2 separate regions of the Homo sapiens genome follow, and region 1 is linked to region 2. The links come from fine-mapping of genetic effects on gene expression. Tissue or cell type: whole blood. Region 2 holds a variant in brackets; the other region holds the start of a gene. All regions are shown on one strand. Distances are between the middles of the regions.

What was found. PIP is the estimated chance that this variant, and not a neighbour inherited with it, causes the effect.
Region 1: LINC00482 starts here. The variant in region 2 is fine-mapped to the expression of LINC00482 in whole blood (TOPMed, PIP above 0.99).

The regions. Positions count from the first base shown.
Region 1 is chr17:81,307,279-81,312,278 of GRCh38, forward strand. It overlaps LINC00482 (long intergenic non-protein coding RNA 482), which reads right to left and starts at 1,970. Exons shown (of 4, transcript NR_038080.1): 1 at 1,907-1,970; 2 at 352-566. It overlaps TMEM105 (TMEM105 long non-coding RNA), which reads right to left. Exons shown (of 3, transcript NR_165247.1): 3 at 3,987-5,000. RefSeq lists an enhancer at 2,334-2,393.
Region 2 is chr17:81,195,925-81,202,055 of GRCh38, forward strand. It overlaps CEP131 (centrosomal protein 131), which reads right to left. Exons shown (of 26, transcript NM_014984.4): 8 at 4,405-4,522; 9 at 3,795-3,911; 10 at 3,457-3,625; 11 at 2,953-3,047; 12 at 2,191-2,373; 13 at 1,788-1,964; 14 at 1,006-1,131; 15 at 777-902; 16 at 1-27. Among named protein-coding and RNA genes, the nearest start is that of CEP131, 24 kb to the right of the region's middle. The variant G/A (reference allele first, on the strand shown) is at 2,987.

The DNA of each region.
Region 1 (5,000 bases), 110 kb after region 2:
CACGAGCACCGGGCATGGTCCTGTGACTACAACCTGAGCAATATAAGCAGAAGGGCTGGGCCGACTTCATGGCTTGCCAAAAGACCCTCCCCCTCCCCCTCCTCCTTCCCTTTCTCTTCCCCCTTCCCCTTCCCCTTCTCCCCCTTCCCCTTCCACTCCTCTTCCCCTCCCCCTCCCCCTTCCCCTTCCCCTTCCCTTTCTCCTTCCCCTCCCCCTTCACTTTCCCTTTCTCCTTCCCCTTCCCTTCCCCCTTCCGTCCCCCTTCCCCTTCCCCTTCCTCTTCCCCTCCCCCTTCTCTGAATCAGGGTCTCACTCTGTCACCCAGGCTGAGGTACAGTGGTGAGATCATACCTGGGACCACAGGTGCACATGGCTAATTCTTGTATTTTTTGTAGCGACAGGGTTTTGCCATGTTGGCCAGGCTGGTCTCAGACTCCTGGGCTCAAGTGATCCACCAGCCTCGGCTTCCCAAAGTGTTGGGATTACAGGTGTGAGCCTCCATGCCCAGCCCCAGCTGAAAGCTTTTCAGTAGTCTTTTACCTTCCCTCCTTTCTCCTTCCTGCTGCCTGGAATGCAGATGCAATGGCTGGAGCTCCTGCGGTTGCTATGGAACCATCCTTGACTTCTCCCTTTCAGTCACACCCCTCATCCAATCTATCGGGAAATTCTGTTGAGTCCATGTTCAGATATCCACAGCTTGGACCACTTCTCCCCACTTCCTGTGTCTCCACCACGATCCGGGTTATCTCTCTCCGGGATCGTCATGTTCTCCTCACTTCCGTCCTGGCCTCCCCATGGTCTGTTCCCACCCAGCAGCCAGAGGGTGAGACCATGTCAGCCTCTGCTCAAACCCACCCTCAGCCCAGGTCCTCACAGGCACCCTGCAGGATGCGCCCTGCCTCCCCTCGGGCCCTCCCAGCACCCCCTAGCTCACTGCCTGGCAACCCCACTCCTGCTGGTGGGCCTACAAAAGCTCTGTAGCATTTGCTGAGGAACAAATGAAACCTGGACCCCAGGGATGGAGGCCGTGGTGGGGGGGCACCATGGAGAGGGGGAGGCACTGTAGAGGTGGGGACACCGTGGAGATGGGGGGGGCGCCGCCCCAGCCCGGCTGCCTGCCCACCACCCATTGAGCAAGCCTCTGGTATTTAAGCCACTGTTTGATTTAGGGCCCAATGAACGAAGCCAGCCAATAGCAATCTCTCACTGTTACCCTCTCCATTTTATAGATGGAGAAACCGAGGCTCAGAGAGGCAACGCAGTGTGCTCAAGGCCACAAGACTTCTAGGTGTGGGCCTGGGCTGCATGCAGGGTGAAGGTTATCATGACCCCCAAGCTCAGGGCACCCCAGGGATGCAGCTCTGACCCCTGCCCTGAGGATGGGACACTCCAACCCTTTCTCTTTTTTTTTTTTTTTTTTGAGACGGAGTCGCACTTTGTTACCCAGGCTGGAATGCAATGGTGAGATCTCAGCTCACTGCAACCTCCGCCACCTGGGTTCAAGTGATTCTCCTGCTTCAGCCTCCGGAGTAGCTGGGATTACCGGCATCTGCCACCACACCCAGCTAATGTTTGTATTTTTAGTAGAGATGGGGTTTCGCCATGTTGACCAGGCTGGTCTCCAACTCCTGACCTCAGGTGATCCGCCCGCCTCAGCCTCCCAAAGTGCTGGGATGACAGACGTGAGCCACCGCACCCGGCCAAACACCCCAACTCTTTCTGCTGCATTGAGTCCAGCAGGGTGCCCTGAGGGACTGGCCCCGGGGACATTTTCAGCCACTTTAGGGAAAAGAAGACGTAATGCTCACACTAACCGCCCCACACCCGACTCCAGGCTGGCCTGGCGCCATACCCTCGGGGTCTCCAAGAGAGGCAGGGCTGGTCCCCACCCACCACCTCCCCTCACCTTGGTCTTGGTGTGTGGAGCCCTTGGCCAGGTCCCAGGCAGTCGTGGGTAACACCGCAGACGTGTGTTACCCAGGGCGGGGCCCCTGAGAGCTGGGGTGGTTCAGAGCCCGTCCCCACTCCGGGAGCAACGTCAGGGCGGGGCGGGGCTGGACGGACAATGTGACCTTTGCAATGTCCCCGAACAAGAACTGCAGATGGTAATCACGGCCACCAGGAGGAAACTTCCTCTGAATCTTCCACTACCGTGGTGTAACTAGGGAGGGTGTTGGAGCATTCAGCGAGATAAAAAGCCTGCTTTTGTCTACACTTTTTCCGTTTTCTAAAAATTCCAGACACAAGGGGAGAGCTGCCCAAACACAGAGGTGGAGAGGAGCCTGTCCGGACACAGGGACACAGGCAGCTCCGGCAGTGACCACTTGGGCCTCAGAGAAACTCACAGGTGGCCACTACTCCTGTTTGGAGCTGGAGGCAGATCATCTGGGGCGCCTCGGGGTAGGGAGGAGCTGGTGGACAGCACGCCCCACTTCTTCCCCAGCCCCTCCAGGGGGAGCTGCCATTCCGCAGCTGGTCCACCCAGCCCCAGGAAGGGGGAGGCTCCCCAGGACAGTAGCCCAAAGAGCAGAGGGTCTCCCCGAGAAGGTGCACCCCAGGCAGGGCTTATCCACATACCACTAGGCTGGGGGCCCTGCTCCGGGGGGTTGGGGTGGCTGGAACCTTAGATGGTCCCATCCTGTTGGGGGGCTTCCTGGGCCGCTTTGCTGCTCCCAACTGTGGAAGGTTCTCTCTTGCCTTCCCTTTCCTGCTGTTAGAAGCACCCCAGCCCCTCCAGGCAGCCCCCAGGGCCCGAGTGATGAATCACTGACTTCTTGCCAGGCTCCGGTCGTGATGCGGGGTGGCAGAGGGATGTGGGCAACGCAGCTGGGAGTCCCGGGGCACAGCCGGGCTCTCTCCAGGCTCCCCATCCAGCAGCTGCGCACCCCCCCAAACACACGCCGGGCTCCCCGCACCCGGAAGCTGCCCACAACCGGCAGGACAGGTCGGTGGGCCCCGGGGAGGAATGCAGGAATGCTGCGTGCCCAGGCGAGGGGCCCTGCGCCCGCCCAAGGGGCTCTCCAGCTGCGCAGGGGCCGGGGCGGATGGAGCCGGGGTAATTAAAGCTGGTGACAGCTGAGGAGGGATAGAGACAGGAACACAGGTGGGGTCCCAGGCCCCTCCGCTTGCTCCCCAGGCAGAGGGCTGGAGCGGCCCCCAGGAGAGTGCCACCTTCGTGGGGCAGGAAGAGAAGGTTGCAGGGGCACTGGGTGTCAGTGGACATTGAGGTCTAGGAGAGGCCAGCTCTCAGCTGCAAAGGGCAGGCAGAGTCACCATGTGCCGGGCCTGGCCGGGCCCTCCCAGTTCCCATCCAGACACCCAGACACCCAGACACCCAGACACTGGTCTCGTCCAGGCCATCACGTGGTCAGGAATGGTGTCTGCCTTTGATAGGTGAGGACCCGGGTGCTGTAGGATCTGCTGCTCTAAATGAAGGCAGGCGGTGCTGCCCCAGCGGGAGGACAGCAGCTCCAGGCCTGACAAGGCTCTAGGCCTCAGCTTCCTTATCTCTCCCGAGCCCAGGTTGACATCCCTTTCCCACCTTCCACAGCCAGAGGACTAGACAAGTGTCTTCACCGGAGCCTCGTTTCCTCATCTGAAATATAGCGCTAACCACCCCTCCCTCCCGTGGCTGTGGCAATAAATTAAATGAAGCCCACAGAGGACCTAGCACACAGTACGTGCTTAATCAATACAGAACCCCTCCCCCAGCACTGCCCGCCCTTCCCCTGGAAGCAGCCACGCTTACCTCCACCACCTCCTCTCCATGGTCATCAAACACTCGTGACAGGCCGGCCTCCCCCTGCTGAGACCCTGAGAGGTCCAGGCCTCTGCTCCTCGTCTCTGCCACGCCTGGTGTCATGAGGGTGAAACAGGCCCTTGGGGGACGTTCGGACTGGCTTCCTGTGATGGCCGCCAGCATTAGTAGCGTTGTTACTGCTGCCTGGACACACACAGACGCCTCACAGAGCAATGCAACATGTGGGTGAAGTTTTCAGATAAAATCGGAGATTTAATAGAATTCCCGCAGGGTGCTGAGCTCCAAACCCAGGCCACACATGGCACACGCAGGGCCTGTCAGGGCTGGGGCTGATGACCAGGGTCAAGGGGATCCCAGGGCCCTCCAGCTCTCCCCCAGCTCCTGATGTGGAGGGGAGGGAACTCCCGCTCACCCCCAGAGAGAAGGGAGTCCACACACCGCATCTGAGCTGGCGGTGGGCAGGGTACCCACCTCGGTGAGCAGCCTGGGGTGGGCCTGGGGTCAGGCTGAGGTCCCGGTGACAAAGGCTGGGGAGGTGGATGCAGACAGCCTCCACTTTCACCATGGCCTCCCTCCTCTGAGGCCAGGCCTGGGATGCTTCTGCCCCACAGCTCCGGTCCACCTGCCAGGCCTGTCCGTCCTTGGATGAGGGCAGGGAGAGGTGGGGTGGCCACTGGCAAGTAGAGACTTCAAAAGTGCACGGTGGCCCTTCCACGCCCTTTGCTTCTTAGCCCCCAACCCTCTGCCAGGCTTTCTCCCTTTTTCCCACGCCCCGCACAGACAGGTATCCTGCCCTCAGCATCTCACAGGGGTGAGTGGCAGCCAGGAGCAGCAGCAGATGCCTGTGGGGAGATGAGACGCCCTCAGCTCCCAGGCCCCGCTCCTGGGGAAAAACAGGGCCCCAGGAAGGTGCCCCAACCGTTCCTGGGGGCCCCAGCCCCGAACAGGGGGTCTTGAAAGGGAACTCTTGTGTGGTGAGTGCCCCCTGAGGGCTGAGCCACAAGGTCACCTTGATTTCTCAGCGGACGGAGGCTGAGCTGGCTAGGGTTCCAGGCTGGGTGTGGGAGGGTCACCCCAACAGGCGATGCCCGAGAGGTGTCCGGGCCTGGCTTTCCACGAGGAAGAACCAGTCCCCTGTGCCATCTGCAGGGCTTGCCACACAATCTGGGGACCCGGTGCAGGAGGAGAATTCCTGGCCACTTGTTTAGGAGGCAGGAAAAGGGCCGGGCGCGGTGGCTCA
Region 2 (6,131 bases):
ACTCAGGACCTTCTTGTCCTCAATCAGCTGTGTTGGGGACCGGAGGTGAGGTGCTACACCAAGGCCCCAGCCCAGCAGGACCCCTGATGGAGGAGACCCTCCCAGCCTCCGAGGGAGGCTAACAGCAGCCCTCCCCTGGGGCTGCCCCTCCTAGGTTTGTGGATGGACCCTGGGGCCAGTGGGGGGGCACGTGTGCAAACACGGGCCCAGGCCTGCATCCGCCGTCCTGTCCTCAGCTGGGGGACCCGGCGAATGTCAGAGAAGCCCCAGCCCACCCCCTGCAGTGATGTCAGGGTCTTCCTGGGATGAGGGTAGCTCTGCCGAGGCCATCACCCAGCCCTGGAGGAGGCTCACTGTCTGCCAAAGGGTGTCAGGACCACACCAGCCTCACTGCCGGCCCCAGGCCAGACCCCAGGTCAGGACACACCTGTGACAACTATCAAGCAGCCCTGGAGGCCCCTATTCTCACACACCCCAGACCAACTCTAGGTCTCTTCTCTTCAGAACAGGAGCCAACCGGGGCTGCGACTGAGCTGAGGGGCCGGCAGGACACCCCACTACACTCACACGGGGCGGCTCTGGATAAAGACAGGAGTGCCCTCTCCAGGGCATGCATGGCTGGGAATGGCATGGGAAAGGCTTGGAATGCGTCCAGCGGACACCCGTGTGACACCCAACAGAGGAAGAAGCTCCCTGGCAGTGGGAAGCCCCTGGCTCTGGAAGTCTCCATGAGCCACGCGCTGGGTCCGGGCCTCTGCGCTCCCCGGGCCGCTCACCTGGTCAATGAAGGCCAAGTGCCGCTGGATGGTGGCCTCGTAGTGCTCCCTCTGCCGCTGCAGCTGCCGGCTCAGCGCCTTCTCTGTCTCCTTGACCCGCCGGGCCGTGAGGTCTCGCTGCTGCGCCTGCAGGGTGTGGGCAGAGGAGGGAAGCGCTAGGACCGGTGGGCCTGGCCTCAGCAGGTAGGAGGCTAGCAGGGCCCGGGATTAGCAGTGCCAGCAGCGTTACCAGCGCTCTCTGCAGCAGCAGCATGGCCTGCTTCTTCTCCTCCACCTCCAGCTTCAGCCGCATCACAGACGTGCTCACCTCGGACCCCAGCTCCAGGGGCCCCGGCCCCGCCTCCGGCACCCACCCCTGCAGACACAGCCGAGCGTCAGGCGGAAGCGGCAGAGGACGGGGGGCAGCCAAGGACCTGACACGATGCCCCTGCGGCCCTGCCCTCTGGGGACAGAGGGGCTGCTGCACACGGGAGCCCGTGGGAAGCCGGAGGGCAGGTGGCAGGCGGCCCAGCAGAGGTCGTTTTCATTGCTCAGTACAGGAAATGGGGGCCGTGGCCTCAGGAATAAAAAACAAACCATTTAAAAAGTTCTATGCTGCCCAGCTTCCTGCCCTGTGACAATAAAGTTCACGTCACTGCTCCATTTAGCCTGGCCGCTAGTGTTCACCCAGGACAAACCAACCCAGAGGACAGCAGGGCTCCAGAGGGCTGAACTATCCACACATATGGGCTCGTGGAGGCAGCTCGGGGCAGCGGGTAGGTGGGGGCAGTATGGGGAATGCGGGCCCTGCCACCTCCACCCTGAGAGACCCGTGGGGGGTGCTGCATAACTAGGTGGGTACATGGTGAGGGACCACCTCCTGCTGGGGGCCGGGTGGGGGCTGGCGAGAGACCTCCTCCCCCTGGGGGCCAGGTGCGGGCTGGTGAGGGGCCTCCTCCCCCGAGGGCCAGGTGCAGGCTCGTGAGGGGCCTCCTCCCACTGGGGGCCGGGTGCGGGCTGGTGAGGGGCCACCTCCTGCTGGGAGTCCAGCTGGTCCTGCCCAGACTTCTCCATCTCGTCCAAGAAGCTCATGATGCTTTGTAGCTTGGCCTCCGATAGCAGCGTCCCATCCTCAGGAGGTTCGGGGAACGCACTGAGTTTTCCAAATTTCTCCAAGTTGTCAGCTGTCAGAGAGCTGGCGTCATCCTCCTGTGGGACAGGAGCCCAGCATCGGGGGCTGTCAGGGCAGCCTGAGGACTTGGGTTCCCCAAAGGCAGAGGTGGCAGCTGAGGCTGGGCTCTGGGAGGGAGGGTTGTGACTAAAGCCAGGAGGAGCCTGTGGCATCCCCATTTTCCCAACCCCCACAGCCACCGCATGCTCTGTGTGAATGGCGTGGGTGGACAGACTGTGCAGGGCGGGCGCACACCGTGGTCACCTCGCTGGCCCAGGCGTATCTGCCCCTGTGATGGGTCCTGGGGCGGGGCAGCACGTCCGGCTCCTTCTCCAGCAGCTGCAGTGTGTGCAGCAGCTCCTCCAGTGGCCCCCTGGACTTGGCGCTCCCCCTGCTCGGGGCCATCATCTCCAGGTTGTCCCCAGCTGCATCCTGGGCAAGAACGTCCTGCAAAAGAGCAGGGAGACAGATGCAGCAAGGCTGCTGGTAGCTGAGAGCAGCCCCCACATAGGAGGCCAACCGCAGAGCCCCAAAGGCGCCGCGGGAGCTCCCCAGTCCCGACATTCAGCCCCAGGAAGGTGAGGCCAGGGCTCAGACCTTCCCACCCGGTCTCTGCAGCTGCTCAAACCCAGAGCAGCTCCAGCCACCAGGGGACTCCTCCCAGTGCCCCACTCCAGGAAAACAGGAGTGCAGCCACCTGGCCCCACCATTGAGCAGCCTGGGAGCCTTGGCTGTCAGGTCACCCCTCAGAGCCGGAAGCTCCTCTTTTGTGGATGAGGATGCAAGGCCCCCCACCCCAGGACATCTGCAAAAACCCAACTGGATCCACCCCAGCAAAGGCTCCCCAAGAGGCAGCCAGCACCATGCATCAGAGCAAGAAGACACCTCCTGGGTGGCCTCTCTGAGCTTAAGTGGCCCCTAGAGCAGAGGAGGGGCTGGGAGAAGCTCAGCTCAGGACACCCCTGGCACAGACATGGCCCTTAAAGCCAAAAACCATGATGGAGTGAAGGACAGCTGTGCTCAGACCTGCGTCCTGTCCTCTGGAGGCTGCTGTGGTTCT[G/A]GGGATGAGTCGGAGGTGGGCAGGCAGCGGTCTCCGGGGCCTGCAGCAGGGAGGCCACCACCTGCACAGCAGAACACAGCACCATTCCACAGGGAGCATCCCGGGGCGGGCAGCAACTCTGGAGGCACCCCCGGGAAGGAGCCAGGCATGGGGGAGGCGGAGGCGACCCCAGAAGCAGAGGAGCCGCTGGGGAGCCACGGCCTTCTGGGTGTGGAGCTGTGGAGGATGAGTGCCACCCCTCCCTTCCGGGCCTTCTACTCTGTAGGGATCCCTACGTCCAGGACCATTTGATTGTCAAGGTCTCGGCACCCTCGTCAGGTCAGCTGGGGGCCAAGGCCCCTAACTCCGAGGACTGGGGCCGCCAACATGGGCAGCAGCACAGGAGGCCGAGAGGAGGTCCACAAGGGCTGCACTTCCTTCCTGGCTGCAGTCCACCCCCCAGAGCAGGGCGGGCGTGGAGCCACTCTCACCAGTATTGTTGGCCTTGAGGGCCTGGTGGGCAGTGCCGCCTGGTGTGGGGGACAGCTCCTGAGCAGGCTGCCGCATTCCTGGCACTCTGGTCTCCCTGGGATTCTCAGGTGGCCCACGCTCGGCAGTGCTCGCCTTCTGGGCTCTCAGGGCTCGTTTCTGTTGCAGCTCCTGCAGTGGGAGCATCGCTGAGCACTGTCCCTGGGAGAGGACGACCCCAGGCTCCACAGCCAAGCTGCCCTGAGGCTAAGTGTCCCGGGGCCCAGGGAGCCCCAGCAGCAGCCCCGCACGGTCAGGCCTGGGCCACGGTGCTGCTCAGTGGTCCCTGCGCGGTCAGCACCTGAATGGCTGCTCGCCTGGCTTGGCGTGCCTTCTCCTCCCGGGCCTTCCTCCTGGCTGCCTCTTTCTGCTGGTGCAGGTCCAAGAGGGTCCCCTCGCCTGACCGCTGCCGCTGCTCCTGCCAAAGAAGCCGGTGCCATGTGGCGTTTACATCTGGAAGACGGAATCCAGACCCAGACCAGAGGTTTCCCCACAACGCCCTGGAGTCCCCTAGAGTTCGTGGAATCTCAGGGCCAGCAGGGAAAGTGAAACCCCACCAGGACCTTGAACCTGCCATTTCTCTGCTCTACAGAGGATGAGCCCTACGTCGCAGGTGGCCAACAGTTCTGGCGTGGGGGAGACAGCTCTGCCCCCACAGAACGTCCTCCTGAGACTCTCCAGCCTGGGATGGACCCAGCAGGCGTTTCCTGACACCCAGGCCCTGAGGACCGCCAGTGAGGACCACCCTGACTGTCCGCGGGGACCCAGGGTCAAGAAGGATGCTGCACCCAGAGACGGGGCCCACGAGCAATCCTAGGCTTTGATTCCACCTGTCCCAGAAACTCAAACCCCTGGGATTCTGGGCCAGACCCCCCGGGGGAGCATGGAGTGACTGAGACGCCCACACTGACCTCCCGCTTGGCCTGAAGCAAGTGCTCCAGGCGGGCAGCTCCTGCTCCGCGCCGCTGCACCTGGTGCCGGTACCAGCGCTGGATGGTGACAGTGGCCTGGTTCACCTGGTGGATAAACCTGCCCGGAGAGCAGGACTCAGGGCCAAGACAGGACCAGCGCCCCGGCAGGACCCAGCTGGCTGCTGGTGGAAGGTCGAGCCGGGGAAGAGAGAAGCCGGCGGCTGCACTCAAGTAGCCCTTTTCACAAGGCAGGACCAGCCCACCTGGACCATTTTCACATGGCAGGACCAGCCGCCTGGACCAGCTCCACTAAAACCCAAAACCTTCTTCCTGGGAAGGTGCCCAGGGGAGAGGAAACGCCTACCCACGCAGGCCTGTGTGGCCTTATTTACAATTGCCAGGAAGTGGGAAGAGTTCAAATGCCCATGACCTGGCTACAGCGTGAATACTGGATGGCGGGACCCTACCCACAGGCAACAGGCCCGGGACTCAGGCCAGTGCAGACCACAGGCCGTGGCTCCACAGAGAGGGTGGTCGGAACAGGCAGGGCTATGAGGGAACAGACTGGTGGCTGCTGGCATCTGGGCGGGGAAGGAGCTCGAGGGAAGCCTGGTGGTGCTGGGCCGTTTCCTTATCTTGGTCTGCTGTGTCCACAGACAGCACTATACACCCTGGTGGAATCTCATGGAACTGCACACTTACAATGGGCACCTTCTATTGTATACAAATTATACTAAGTAAAACTGATTAAGCAAAAAAAAAAATGCTTCACCTTGGCTCTCGGGACCATGTGTGGATTCTCTCAGCAAAGGCACTAACAGAGAACCCAGAACGTGTGAGCCCTAGCTCGGGAGCAGTCTGCCCCGGGCAGAACTGGGGGGCTTCAAGGGGTTGCGGGCTTCTGGTCCCCCTTCCCTCGTGCCACCCACCGCGTCTACAGGCCTGGTCTCCCTAGCCCTAACTGGGCGGTAGGGTAGGTGACGGCTCCGCCAGGAGCAGGCTCCGAAAGTCCAGGCAGGGAGGTACCCCCGCGACTGTCCTGACAAGAAACGACTGTCATGGTCACAGGAGGCTCCGCCCACAGCCCCTCCAGCTCCCCAGGGGCAAGCGGCAGGGGCACAGCCCCCAACAGTCATCATCACAGGAGGCTCCGCCCACAGCCCCTGGAGCTTTGGGTGTTGTTGGCTTTTTTCAGTTCTGTATCTTCTTTGCCTTTAATGTTGTTTTAATTAACAGTTTTACTGAGGTACAATTTCCATACTATAAAATCTACCCATTTTCAGTGTACAAGTCAATGATTTTTAGCAAATCTAGAGTTGTGTGACCATCAGCACAGTGCAGTTCTGGAATGTTCCACTGCCCCTGGAGGAGCCCTCTCTGCCACCCCTACACCAGCCTTCGACCTCCTGTGATAAACTTGCCTTTGCTTGGTGTTTTATGTAAATAGAACCACACCACATGGGGTCTGCTCGGTCTCAATATTTTAAAACAGGCCGGGGGTGGTGGCTCACGCCTGTAATCCCAGCACTTTGGGAGGCGGAGGCGGGCGGATCACGAGGTCAGGAGATCGAGAACATCCTGGCTAACACGGTGAAACCCCGTCTCTACTAAAAATACAAAAAATTAGCCAGGCGTGGTGGCGGGCACCTGTAGTCCCAGCTACTCGGGAGGCTGAGGCAGGAGAATGGTGTGAACCCGGGAGGCAGAGCTTGCAGCGAGCAGAGATC